Homo sapiens: one gene and its partners. The protein of the gene in region 1 purifies or fractionates together with the protein of each later gene. This does not show direct contact. Each region holds a gene or a part of one and is shown on either strand. Other genes may lie near its edges.

Region 1 (3,500 bases):
CCATGCTGAGGGGAAAAATAACGCAAGAGGCTGGCCTCGCTTGTCCGATGTGTTGGTAGGAGGGGCCCAGGCAGCGAGAGAGTACAGGTAATGGGCCTCCACAGGCGATCATACCACATACGTACACATGTGCTTATGTGTGTACAGGCACTTATGTATGGCATGTAGGCATCCTGCCTTGTCCTCAAACACAGATTCAGTTGTATTGATACACAGTTCTACTTTTAAAATGGAAACATCTACTTTGAGGATTCACCTATCAGTCATTTACAACCTAGTAGGAATTAATTTACCCAACTGCTCTCAAACTGGCCCTCAGCTGAAATCACGGTCTGAGACAGAAATTATATTCCCAATTTGCCCCTTTTCCCAGGGAATCTGACAAAGACACTCTTTCTCTTCCACAATTACAACCTCATGGGTATTTACACTTAAAAACCCTACCATCTCGAGAAGAGTTTGTTGTTTTGGCATATATTATGAGAGGAAGGAAGAAAGATTTATTTTGGAACATAAAAGCACTTTGGAGGATAGGGGAGATCCACTTGCAATTGCTCCCCAAAAGTCCACAGTTCAAGTGACCTTGAACAAGTGACTCCCTTTTTTTATTTTTATGTTTTTTTTTAAATTATTATTTTACCTTTTAGACGGAGTTTCGCTGTTACCCAGGCTGGAGTGCAGTGGCACTCCCAGGTTCAAACAATTCTCCTGCCTCAGTCTCCCAAGTAGCTGGGATTATTATAGGCACCCACCACCACATCCAGGTAATTTTGTATTTTTAGTAGAGATGGGTTTTCACCACGGTGGTCAGGCTGATCTTGAACTCCTGACCGCAAGTGATCCACACACCTTGGCCTCCCAAAGTGCTGGGATTACAGGCGTGAGCCACCACGCCTGGCCATTTTTATTTATTTTTTATTTTTTGTAGAGATAGGGGTCTTGCTATGCTGCCCACGCTGGTCTTGAACTCCTGGCCTCAAGCAATCCTCCTGCCTCAGCCTCCCAAAATGCTGGGATTACAGGCGTGAGCCACTGCACCCGGCCCTGACTCCCTTTCTTTCATCTCAGTTTCCCCATCCGTTAAACCAAGGGTAACCTCTATGCCGGAAACAGAGGACAGGGCAGCAGATCAGCTGAGAAGGCTCAGGGAAGCCGAGGCACCAGTGGCCCTGTGGCCTCTGCCACTTCAGGACAGAGGCATGTTCTTATCTGTTTATCTCAGCTTATCTGTTTACCCTTGCTTTCTGCACAGGCCCCAGAAGCTGTCCTTGGGGTTCATTTCATCATTACCTTTTTAAAAAAATTTTTGATATTCCACAGATTACAAGTTCTTAGAAACACAGTAGGCCCTATCAAAACTGGCCTAGTTTAGGAGGATGTCACCAGTTGACTCTGGTACGTCAGATAGACTCCCTTGCTTCGGACACCAGGGAACAAGCAATGAACTGTTTTATTGTTTCAAACACTTTCTTTCTAAGTGTGCTCTGAGTTATTGTTAAAATGTTTCAAATCTCACAAGAAACAGTTTTTAAGGAGAAAACCATTTTCAAGTGGATACAAGAACAGTGAGTTTCTTTGGCATCTTTAAGTATACCTTCTTCCTGATGTCTTCCCAGCTCAGAAAAAATGAAAACCCTTAAAATGGTTTTGCCTGTCTTCACCCCCATTTTAGATCACCTGCCTGTGGAGGTTTCTTTCTATTCTTTCTGTAGATCTGCCGCACTTATGCAACTTAATTGTTTTTTTAAATAAAATGACTGCTTTAAAATAGCCCCACATTAAGAATTTCAAGAAGGAACATGGGGCTCTGTATGTATCTATATCATGCACTTAATTTGAATCAGGAAAGTCAGTTGCTCAATTTAGGCAAATTTCCCAACAAGATATTGAAAAAGGGGGTGGGGGAGGATATGGTAGCTTAACCCCCTCCACCCCCGCCACCATCCATGATTGTCCCTGACCTGAATTTCCTCTTAGGTGAGTCAGTCCCAACTCCCAACCCCTGCCTTCACCCCTCCTCCATGGTGCAGCCCCCTCCCCTTCCTCAGTCTCTTCCTCACTCTCCGCACCCCCTTCCCTATTTTCTCCTTCTCCTACCCATTTCCCCCTCTCATCTCTCCTTCTCCCCCTCCTCCACACTGTCTCTCTCCCCAACTCCCTGCCTCCCTCTGCTTCTTTTAATTTTCCCTAATTTTTCATGTCAGAAGTCATGGGGTTATCACACTCACTAAATGCACAGAATCCTCTAGAGAAGCTCTGTCCCGATGAGCTTTCTGCAATGATGGGAATGTTCTATATGCATGGCCCAATACAATGGCCACTAGCCACACATGGCTACTGAGCACTAGACATGTGGTTTGCATGCTTCAGGAACATAATTCCTAACTTTAATTAATTTAAGTATAAATAACAACATACAGCTAGTGGCTACTACGTTGAACAGAGCCCCTGAAGAGGAACAGGTACCTTTAATCTTTTCGGTCATTCCCTGTGACAGGCTATGTCAAAGGACATACCCAGGCCAATCCCAACAGAAAGCCAGAAAAGAATGCAGCCTCCACCGTCTTCACTCCAGAACTGCAGCCCGTCTACCCGCCCAGGCCTCTGCCCTGAACACCTGCTCTGCCTGGAAGGCGCCATGGCACACCAGTTTTCCTCTTGGATCTTGTCATTCCTCAACCAAAGGGTCTTCTTGCCATTGTTTTTAATGGTTTCCATTTCTAGGAACAGACCTTCATAAAAACAGTGTTGGCCGGGCGTGGTGGCTCACACCTGTAGTCCCAACATTTTGGGAGGCCAAGGTGGATGGATTGCTTGAGCCCAGGAGTTTAGAGACCAACCTGGGCAACAGGGCGAAACCCCATCTCTACAAAAAATACAAAAATTAGCCAGGCATGTTGGCACGAGCCTATAGTCCCAGCTACTCAGGAGGCTGAGGTGGGAGGATCACTTGAGCCCAGGAGGTCGAAGTTGCAGTGAGCTGAGATGGCACCACTGCACTACAGACTGGGTGACAGCAAGACCCTGTCTCAAAAAACAAAACAAAACAAAAACCCCTCAGTGCCCCAGAAAATTAGCAGTTGTCTTCCAGATTCAGGTCTATCCCTCAAGTATAACCTTTTAATTATGCTTAAATCACATACTGGTCCCTCAGGCCATTGTCCAAATTCTAGGCACAGTAGAGTCAATGCAGTCTACACAGCTAAGGAGGTCACACCCCAGTCAGCCTCAGCTCTTCGGGGAAAAAAATCCAGTTCTGTTCACACCTAGTTGATCAGTTAAAAAACATCAAAAGAGACTGAGTGCAGTGGCTCATGCCTGTAATCCCAGCACTTTGAGAGGCCAAGGCAGGCAGATCACCTGAGGCCAGGAGTTTGAGACCAGCCTGGCCAACATGGCGAAACCCCGCCTCTACTAAAAATACAAAAATTAGCCAGGCTTGATGGTGGGCGCCTGTAATCCCAGCTACTCAGGAGGCTGAGGCAGGAGAATCGCTTGAA
Region 2 (3,500 bases), on another chromosome or scaffold:
ATAACATTCCTTTCTTATTTAAAATTATCAAAATAACAGGACAAGAAGAAAGTAAAGTATGCCCAGCTGTCCCCTTTCCACCAAAATTCACAGGTCAATTCTCCCTCCTATAAAGGAAATAAGGTTTATATTTTGTATTACACTCTGGCCCCATCCCCCTTGTTTCCACCCCAATGCCATGCATTCTACATTCTTTAAAATATAGGCAACTAACTAAGGTGCTTGGCACCTAATATAGTATTTCAATATTTGATTGACCAACTAACACTATGCAGTACCATTTTACAAAGAACACAGTGAGATTTTTTTTTTTTAATCGGAGTAGAGCTGTTCAGAAGGCAGGAGCGATGCCACAGTTCATTTCTCTTCTCTGTGGCACAGAAACACAAAGCATATAGATGCTCAGTGTAATGCCACACAGTTCCCGCTTTTGGAGCATGCTCTCAGCAAGAGGCTGCTGGTGGCACAAAGAGCATGCGCCATTAAACTTGATCCATTTTCTTATCAAACGTCCAACATTCCAACACTGAAACAGCACCATTCCAAAAGTGGTAACTAGAGAAACCGGTATACAGTGAGGGAAAGTGGGCAAAGGACACAGCTCGTCGTATCAGTGTCCTGAACAGAAGGTTTCCATACTTTGAGCAGTGCATTCTCTCCCCACACTACCAACGCCAGCTCCCAACACACACACACACACACTTGCACTCTCCTGCTTTCTCACACACACTCTTGCATTTTTAAATAGAAGTTTTCAAACTGGAAAACAAAAATTACATGAATGTTCTTCCATCAGCTTCCCTATAGAATATGCAGCCCCACAGAGTCCGTTAATTTGTTCACCGATCACATGAGTATAGCAATTATTCTAAACCTCTTAAAAATCAATCTGAGGTGAACAATGAAAAATGGCAACTTGGCACCAACTTTACATTCTTTGTGTCTCTGCATGCTGTGGTGGGGTGACACTGCTGGTCAGTTACTGCTTTTGTGGAATCTATACAATTCATTTGCCATGTAGATGAATTATCAGTTAGAACTGTGGGTGCATATATGCATGTGCATGTGAATTTGCAGATACATAGATTATAGAGTACCAATCTTTTGAATTAAGTAGTTTACCTTTAGGCTCCTGCATTTTTCCTGCCTGTTTCATCCAAGCCCTTTTTTTAAGGGAGGGGATCAGTGAGGAATGGTGGATAATCTTTACCTACAGATATTTCAAGTTACTTCCCAGTGCAGTCAGTTTCGTTACTTCCTGATTTAGGTAAAACCTGTCTTATAAGCTTAGGCCTATTACTGTTCAAAGAGAAAGAGCTTAACGTCCTGTACATGCACACCGCATGTACGCAATAAGCCAAGATTTGAAGCAAATGAGAACTTCCACCACCACCACTTTTCTGATCATATTGACTATACTGTCAGCCCAACGACAAAATAACTCTCTGATTGTATCCCAAGTTAGAATTTACATACTCATGTTAATCACCCTGAACTACGTGGAATAAATTCTATTTAACAGCAGACTGACTAATTAATTCCATTAGGTAAATATGATGAAAGTACAACTAATGACTCTTTAACAAAGAAGGTGTCAAAAATCCAATATAGATATGAATACATTTTGAAGAAGAAATTCGAAGTTTTAATGCTACAGACTGCAACATGTTAGCTGTTTGCACTTCAGATATGGAAGGAGTACATGTCCCATCCAATCAATAATGTAGTTATCAAGTGTTCTAACATTGCTGTAAGTGTTCCTTCACCAGAATAAGTATGAATCAAAATTTTATAACAATACAGAATGCTGATGATTACATCACAGCATGAGGCATACCCAAATGCCATAGAGGAAATCATTAAACCGATCAGTAGTTTCCAGCAGAGATTTGAACAATTCAGTTACTATGCGAGCACATTAAACTAGGCCATGGAAAGAGTTAAACCACAATCTGTTCTTTGTGTGGGAAGGCAGCCCTGCTCACAGCAACCACATCCCATGATAAGACCTCCCTATCTCCATACACTTTCTGATGCCATGCTTTTAGCTTTCACTGTAACTACAAAAACTTTGTTTATCCCCTTTAGGAATATATGCAAAAGGAAAGCCTGCTCAAGGAAATGTGGACTTAAATGTGCTTTGGAAACTCACTTCCTATAATCTTTTACTACGATTTATTGATATGACTAAAAAACACACATATATGCACTCACAAAACTAAAACCTTGAGAATGTAAAGAGCACATGAGGTGGAGTGGGTGGGCTCTGTCTCACTCATTTTACCCTTGCCATGCTTTTTAAAATGCAATATTATTTTATAAATATTAAGCCATGTGGTAACACGTAAGTACTTACACCTTAAGTACTATGTTCAGTGACATTTCATTTTCTTATAAAGACATCAAACACAGTTTTGATTAAATTTGAGTTTCAATATTTGATTATAAATATAATCTATCACACAAGAAAGCTCAAAATTTTAATGAGTTATTTTAAACAACCAAAATTCAAATTTGAAGGTTGAATTTGAAAATTCTTAGCAAATGCACACAGTTTTTAAACGTTCCTTTGACTTTGCTGTCAATGCTGCCAATATTGTTTTAAAACATGCTCTTTTTTTTGAGAAATAAAAGTAGCAAACTTTCTCAGGCTGCCAGTTTGCCTTATTGATATCGTTCAGGGTTTCACTATTATGTGAATTCAAGTGAAGCACTTATTTGACAAGGGGACATATCCTCCAAAAATGACTGTAAATTGAGGTTTGCTGTAAGTCGCATATATTTCTGTATTAACATGCCTAAATGTCATCTCCCAAGTGTGACTGTTTCCTAATGCTGAGTAACACTAGAGTCTTAAAGATTATGAGTGACATGAATATGGAACATAATAACTGTCCTGATACAAAAATATTTTTTTAAAAGGTGATTAAGGTTTTCAAATATCCTAACTAGTAGTGGATTATTACAATAGCATTAAGCAATCATAAATTCTTTAAAAAAAGCAAAACATATAAGTGATTTAAAACCAAACAACTGTATACAAAGGTAATAGGCAACTTTGCTCTTTCAGAATTTTTAGTAAAATGCATTGATGTTCAGTAATTCTCTTTTAAAACTTCCTTTAGTTGAACTAAATTGACAAAGTAAATAACAAAGTTACCAATTTCAGATATAAAAATAAAGAGTCTTAATTCCACTAGGCATATTTATTTTTCTTCCGTTTCCATGAAAGGGATGGATAATTTAGACCAACATAGAGGTAGAAGAGTAAATACTAGGTGCTCTTGGCGCATTGCTATATAACAACAAATCATGCAAAAAATGTACCTAAAGAACTTAAAAGCAACGAAAGAAAAATATATTTAATGCCATCATGCCAATTGAAAGTTATATTATTAATGGTTTACATTATTTTTAAACATATATTAAATCATATGATAGTTCTTAATTTTTCCTTTATATCTGATTTATACTGGTGTATAAATATTGGTTATTGATAT
Region 3 (3,500 bases), on another chromosome or scaffold:
GAAAAGTGATTTTCCCCTCTTCCATCCCAATGTTCACCTTCTACAAAAATCACAGAGCATACAAGCCAGAACTGTATGAAGCCTCTCATTTCACCTGGCATAAACAGAAAGAAAATCAATGGGAAAGAAAAGTCAAAGGATAACTTAATAAACATAAAATGAAGTCTCACAATTCAATACTTGAGAGTCTGGACCTATCTTCTGAAATATGCCATCAACTATCTTTGCTTCTCCTGCTTCTGGCCTAAGGTGACTGTTAATTAAGTGTTTACATTGCTCCAAAATGCCAACGAGGTGTAGTTTATAATAAGAGTACACAGAAATGTGCCCAGCAAAGTAAGAAGCACTGTACTCACAAATGGTTCAAATACTTGACACCTTAAAGATCATGGATCATACAGCTAGAAAAGAACTCTTAAAGAACATCTGGTCTGAACAAAAAGGATTCATGTTTCTAGTATTCACTCAACCATGGGGGAAGGAGGAGATGACAAAAAATATAATTGAAACAACTTCCTTTTTTTTGAGATAGGATCTTGCTCCATTACCCGGGTTGGAGTGCAGTGGCTCACTGGATCATGGCTCACTGCAATATCAAACTTCTGGGTTCAAGTGGTCCTCTCACCTCAGCCTCCCGAGTAACTGGGACTACAGGCATGCACCACCACGCCTCGCTAATTTCTTATTTTTGTAGAGATAAGGGTCTCACCATGTTGCCCAGGATGGTTTTCAACTCCTGGGATCAAGCAATCTCTTGCTTCAGCCTCCCAACGTGCTGGGATTACCGATGAGCTACCATGCCCAGCCTAGTTTAATGATTTCTATACTTCTAGCATAGTACCAGGCAATTAAGACATGGTCAAGAGTTACAAAATTTGGGGGAAGAGAGGTGACAAAGTAAATCATGTATTATATATTGCCTTAGTTTGTTAAAGTAATACCTATACTAACAAAGATTTTTTCAGGGGCCCACTTCATCAGATGCTTCATTACCAAACCAAACAAAGGATGTATAAAATACATTCTAAAGATAAAAGGTTAGCTGCTGATCAAGCAATGGCGACAGCTGTGGTATTAAGATAAAAGGAATGCTGGAATCACCATTGCAAGACACTGCCTCAATTTACTGATCTGCAAAATGAAGAGCATTTTCAGATACTTTTAGTCTCAGATTAAAGTAAGAAAACAGGGAGGATGCAGGAGGCAAATTCAGACACCTGGAAATGTTGCTTATGGCTCAAACTACCTTCCTTCGATGAGAGAGGGAGTACAAATGAAAGGTGAGTAAAAGGGGAAAATCAAACCCTCCACTTCATAAATATTTGTCAACTATTGTGCACATGCGTGTTTTCTTTTTTAAAAGATACTTTTTATTATAAAGGAGTTTTGTTCTTAAAAGTTTACTAGTTGAAGTATAAGGGTTTTTAAAAACTGGTATCAAGTCAGTGCTTCAGACACAGCCACACCACGAGCAGGGAGGGAGGTATGACATGACACAGTTGTTGAACATACTGCTCTGTACTGTGTCTCAGTTCAATCTTGGCTCAAGACTTAAGCCAACTATAGGATCACAGTTATTTCTTCCCTCACCTATAAGATGTGGCTATCAATATGTTTTGTAGAGTATAGATAGGATTAAATGAGTTAATATATGTGATGTGCTTTAAGTGTTGTCTGGCACATTGCAAATGCCCAATATCGGTTGTTGTTGTTATTATTACTATTATTTTGAGACGGAGTCTTGCTCTGTCACCAGGCTGGAGTGCAGTGGTGCAATCTCAGCTCACTGCAACCTCTGCCTCCCTGTTTCAAGCGATTCTCCTGCCTCAGCCTCCAGAGTAGCTGGGACTACAGGCACATGCTGCCACACCCAGTTAATTTTTGTATTTTTAGTAGAGACGAGGTTTCACCATGTTGGCCAGGATGGTTTCAATCTCTTGACCTCATGATCTGACTGCCTCGGCCTCCCAAAGTGCTGGGATTACTGGCATGAGCCACCGCGCCCCACCAATATTGGTTATTATTAAAGATCTTTTTAAGTTCTAATACCATGTTAAAATTCTACATGGAGGGCAAGACCTAGTGACTCACGCATGTAATCCCAGTGCTTTGGGAGGCCCAAGTGGGAGGATCACCAGAGGCCAAAAGTTTGAGACCAGCCTGAGCAATACAGTGAGACCCCATCTCTACAAAAAAATTTTAAACTTAGCTAGGTGGGGTGGCACGCCTGTAGTCCCAGCTACCTGGGAGGCTGAGACGGGAAGATCACTTGAGCCCTGGAATTTGAGACTGCAGTGAGCCATGATCACACCAGTGCACTCCAGCCTGGGAAACAGAGGAAGACCCTGTCTCTAAAAAATAAAAAAATTCTACATGGAATAATAACAGGCACTGAAGTACTGCTAAGGAAGACATTAACTGGTCATCAAAATCATGATATTTTAAATAAGCATTGCTTTTTTTTTTTTTTTTTAAAGACAGTCTACCTCTGTTACCCAGGCTGGAGTGTAGTGGTGCAATCTCGACTCACTGCAACCTCTGCCTCCCAGGTTCAAGCAATTCTCCTGCCTCAGCCTCCGGAGTAAGTAGCTGGGATTACAGCAGTGCGCCACCATGCCCAGTGTATTTTTGTATTTTTAACAGAGACAAAAATAGGTTTTATTACCTTGGCCAGGCTGGTCTTGAACTCCTGACCTCAGGTGATCCATTCGCCTAGGCCTCCCAAAGTGCTGTGATTACAGGTGTGAGCCATCACACCCGGCAATAAGCACTGCTTTTTATCCGTCAATCTTATTTCCAGGAACCTCTCAAGGATGTGTGCAAATACGTATGTATAAGGATGTTCATCAAACTTCTCATTTATAAAATAGCAACAAGTGGAAAACTACCTAAATATCAATGAACAGGATATTGGTTAAATAAGTGATGTCATACCTTTACAACTGGAGTACTATGGCAGTCAATCTATTTATTTTTTATTATTTTTTTTTTTTTGAGATGGAGGCTCGCTCTGTTGCCCAGGCTGGAGTGCAGTGGCACAATCTCGGCTCACTGCAAGCTCCGCCTCCCGGGTTCATACCATTCTTCCTCAGCCTCCCAGAGTAGCTGGGACTACAGGTGCCCGCCACCACACCCGGCTAATTTTTTGTATTTTTAGTAGAGACAGGGTTTCACCGTGTTAGCCAGGATGGTCTTGATCTCCTGACCTCGTGATCCACCCGCCTCGGCCTCCCAAAGTGCTGGGATTACAGGCGTGAGCCATTGCGCCCGGCCTATGGCAGCCAATTTAAAAGCGTAATGTGTACCTACAGTTAATGACATTTCTGAGTGGAAAAAAAAATCAAAGTACAAAATAACACGCGTTGATCCCACTGATATTAAATTTTATAGTTCATATTTTTGAGTCAATATGCAGAGATCTTAGAAAATGTTCACCAAAAACTGTTATCCAAAGATGGAGATGAAGATTTTAGGGAATGCCTTCTTTAAACCTTTGAGTA
Region 4 (3,344 bases), on another chromosome or scaffold:
GTTGTTATTGACCTAGGATATCCTTCCAGCTTCTATTAGTTATTATTCATCCAATCCATTCATCTGTCTATCAATATCCCAATCAAGTGCTACCTCCTCATGAGATGCTCCCCATCTATTCTGGCCCACTTTGACGTATTTCTTTTCTAAATTCCTGGCACATTTTCTGTTTATATATTCTGACTTCTGTCACATTCAGCCTTAAAATGTTACTTAAGTGTTTTATGTGACTAAGGCTTGTCTCCCAACTAGACTGTAAGTGTCTGGAGAAAACAGGCTGGTTTCTACCTGTTTTTTGTACTCCCTTTCACGGCCAGCTCAGGGCCTTAATGTAGTAGGTGCTCAATAAATATGAGATGGCCAATGAAGGTAGATACACCCTTCCCCTCTGGGCCTTTCTCTCTCTCTTTCTCTCTGTCTCTTTCTCTGTACTGAGGCCAGACCACTGCTTCATAAATAAGCAAAGAAATGAATTGTAGTAATGAATAATCAGCACAAGATTTTTGCAAAGACTAAAGTTTTATTCCAATCAGTGTTTTTTTTTCCTTTGGAAGACACATCTCTGAGCTCTCTGTGAGGAGGACAGCCTCATTGATGCCCTCAGTGATGTAATTTATGTTGTTGGCATTGATACAGCTGAAGTTAATCTGACCGTTCTTGGGGATATAGATGTGCTTCTTCCTGACCAGGTATTCCACCTGCTGGGCTAAAATCATGACAAGGTCTCAGATCTCGAGACTGGCCATCTCGAATTCTCCTCTAGCCCAGGCTGGTTTATTTTCTTATTTTTTTATTGATTGATTGATTGAGATGGAGTTTTGCTCTTGTTGCCCAGGCTGGAGTTCAATGGTGCAATCTTGGCTCACTGCAACCTTCGCCTCCCAGGTTCAAGCGATTCTCCTGCCTCAACCTCCCAAGTAGCTATGATTACAGGATGCACCACCATGCACGGCTAATTTTCATATTTTATTTTTTAGTAGAGACGGGGTTTCACCATGTTGGCCAGGCTGGTCTCGAACTCCTGACCTCAGGTGACCCACCCGCCTCGGCCTCTCAAAGTGTTGGGATTACAGGCATGAGCCACTGCACCGGGCACCCAGGCTGGTTTATGAAGGATAGGGAGTGTCGGTACTTCTGGGGGTCCAGAAGTGTCTTTAAAGCAGCCCATTTTCCAGAGGACAGAATCAAAATCTGGAGTGAAGCTAGGAACTGGTCACCTAGTCAGTGAAGTTTAATGCTCAAATACAGGCCAAAGGTCAGAAAGGGGGGACACCAGCCCCCTAGACCCTTACAGTTGAGTCCAAGATAGCCGTGGGTCCCACTCTGCTCGGTGATGTGACCCCAGGACCCAGGGGTTCCCAGGAGCTGGAGTTTCTCCTTCACTTTTTCCTTGGTTAGCATGATGTTCTCTACAACTTCTTTTAGACTCTGCTTCCTACCAAGGAAGGACAATGAGAAAGGAGGGTGTGAGGTCCCCCTTGCCCTCAAACCTCCCTCATTGCCAGTCCACTCTTCTTACCTTCAAAGGTCTCCAACAGAGTGCCAGAGGCTCTGGGATGATTATGAGTGGGAGGGAGGTTTGATCTCATATTCATTTAAGCAAACCAGGGAGGCTCCCAGGCAGATTTTGCCAGAGTTGCAAGCCCCTGATGCTCTCTTATCTCCCCAAGCAATCTGGAAGAGTTCATATAACTCATTGGCCTGGGTGCAAAACAAATGTCCTATCACTCTGTCCCCTAAGGCAACCCTTGGCATAGCCACCGCCATTGGTACACATCAGGTCCTTAGTAAATGTTGATGAATGAATGGAGTAAAAAGGCCACATGGGCAGGAGAGAAGCACCCTGCCGAATCCTGCAGATCAGCAGGTCTGCAGGCACCCAGGGCCTCTCCCATCCCTTCCTGCTCCAGCCCTCACCCTTACCATTCTCCCAGCAGAGCAGGGTTGCAGAGGATGGAGGTGATGACACGTGCACCCGTGTTGGGGGGGTTTAGCCACAGGGCCTGGGCTAATCCTTCCAGCTGGGAGAGGACACACAGCAGCTGCTGGTTGTTGACTGCCACCACCACTAGCATCCCCACTCCTTCATCTGCAGTGTTGGGAAGACAGCCTCAGCCTCAGCCCCTTCCTCCACTCCCAAGGCCTTCACCTAGATCTCAACCCCCAACCTTGCAGAAGAAAGGGTTGAACCACAAGGCCCTCATTGCAGCCCAGCCAGGGTGATATTCAGGCTCCGGGAAGTTGCCAGAGGCTCTCCTTCCAGCAAAAGTACCCATAAGTCAGAGTCTTAAAGGAGGAAGGAATTTGAAAGATCACTAAGTTCTACTCTCCTGTTTTTTCCTTTCCTTTCCTTTTTTATTTTTATTTTTATTTTTATTTGTTTAAAGTGACCATCTCTCTCTGTTGCCCAGGCTAGAGTGCAATGGTGGAATCATAGCTCACTGCAACCTCTACCTCCTGGGCTTAAGCAATCCTCCTGCCTCAGCCCCCCGGGTGGGTAGGACTACTGGTGTGTACCACCATGCCCGACTAATTTTTTTAATTGTTTGTAGAGACCGGGTCTCGGTGTGTTGCCCAGGCTGGTCTTGAATTCCTGGCCTCAAGTGATCACCTAACCTTGACCTCCCAAAGGAGGGATTAGGAGGTGTCAACTGGGATTACAGGTGTCACCCACCATGCCAGCCCCACCCTCTCATCTTATAGTTGAGGAAACAGAGGCCTGAGGGGGTGAAATGATCCAAGCCAAGCTGGGTTGGGTTCTGTTACTAGATTTAGTAACAGAACCAAATTCTAGCTCAGTGCTCCCCACTTCTGCTTCTATAGTGCTCTCCCTAGAGTCCTTGGCTCCCTCCCAAGGATGAGATATCAAAAACATCACTGTGCTGTGAGCGCAGCACCACTTCAGCAACAGACCCTCCCTTCTTCTGCCTGTACCATACCATAAATGCCAAAATTCTTGGACAGAGACTGGCTGCAGAAGAACTCAAAGCCTTGAGACACAAAGTATTGTAAGATTCTAGTATCTTCTTCCAAGTCACTGGTGTATAAACCTTGACAGGGAATATCAAAAAATGGGAATATCTGCTTGCTCTGTAGGAGAAAGGAGAACAAAAAAAGAATGAGACAGATGGAGGAGAGAGCAGAGAGTCAAAGACAGGAAGGTCGGGTGGGAGATTGGGTTTACCTTTATCATGGACATCAACTTTGCCCACCCACTTGGTGTCAACTTGCAGTCGATAATGTTCCCCATCACAAGGACACAGCCATGTGGGATCTGCTGCAGGTACAGACGGTCTCATCAGGCTTCACCCCCACCCAGGAGTGGCGGCCCCAGGGCATTTGGG

The links.
Region 2: the proteins of GRK5 (region 1) and NFIB purify together in Homo sapiens (affinity purification with mass spectrometry, with the first as the bait; one large-scale study listed by BioGRID). This does not show direct contact.
Region 3: the proteins of GRK5 (region 1) and DHX15 purify together in Homo sapiens (affinity purification with mass spectrometry, with the first as the bait; one large-scale study listed by BioGRID). This does not show direct contact.
Region 4: the proteins of GRK5 (region 1) and GOT1L1 purify together in Homo sapiens (affinity purification with mass spectrometry, with the first as the bait; one large-scale study listed by BioGRID). This does not show direct contact.

The regions. Positions count from the first base shown.
Region 1 is NC_000010.11:119,214,071-119,217,570, reverse strand, and holds part of GRK5 (G protein-coupled receptor kinase 5), read right to left. Parts: intron 1-3,500. UniProt on the Homo sapiens protein: Serine/threonine kinase that phosphorylates preferentially the activated forms of a variety of G-protein-coupled receptors (GPCRs).
Region 2 is NC_000009.12:14,307,642-14,311,141, forward strand, and holds part of NFIB (nuclear factor 1 B-type), read right to left. Parts: intron 395-3,500; exon of another isoform or gene 282-394; coding exon of another isoform or gene 267-281; intron 1-266.
Region 3 is NC_000004.12:24,578,055-24,581,554, forward strand, and holds part of DHX15 (ATP-dependent RNA helicase DHX15), read right to left. Parts: intron 1-3,500.
Region 4 is NC_000008.11:37,933,781-37,937,124, forward strand, and holds the end of GOT1L1 (putative aspartate aminotransferase, cytoplasmic 2), read right to left. Parts: intron 3,278-3,344; coding exon 3,185-3,277; intron 3,091-3,184; coding exon 2,940-3,090; intron 2,090-2,939; coding exon 1,924-2,089; intron 1,675-1,923; exon of another isoform or gene 1,520-1,674; intron 1,436-1,519; coding exon 1,293-1,435; intron 707-1,292; coding exon 513-706; 3' UTR 501-512; downstream 1-500.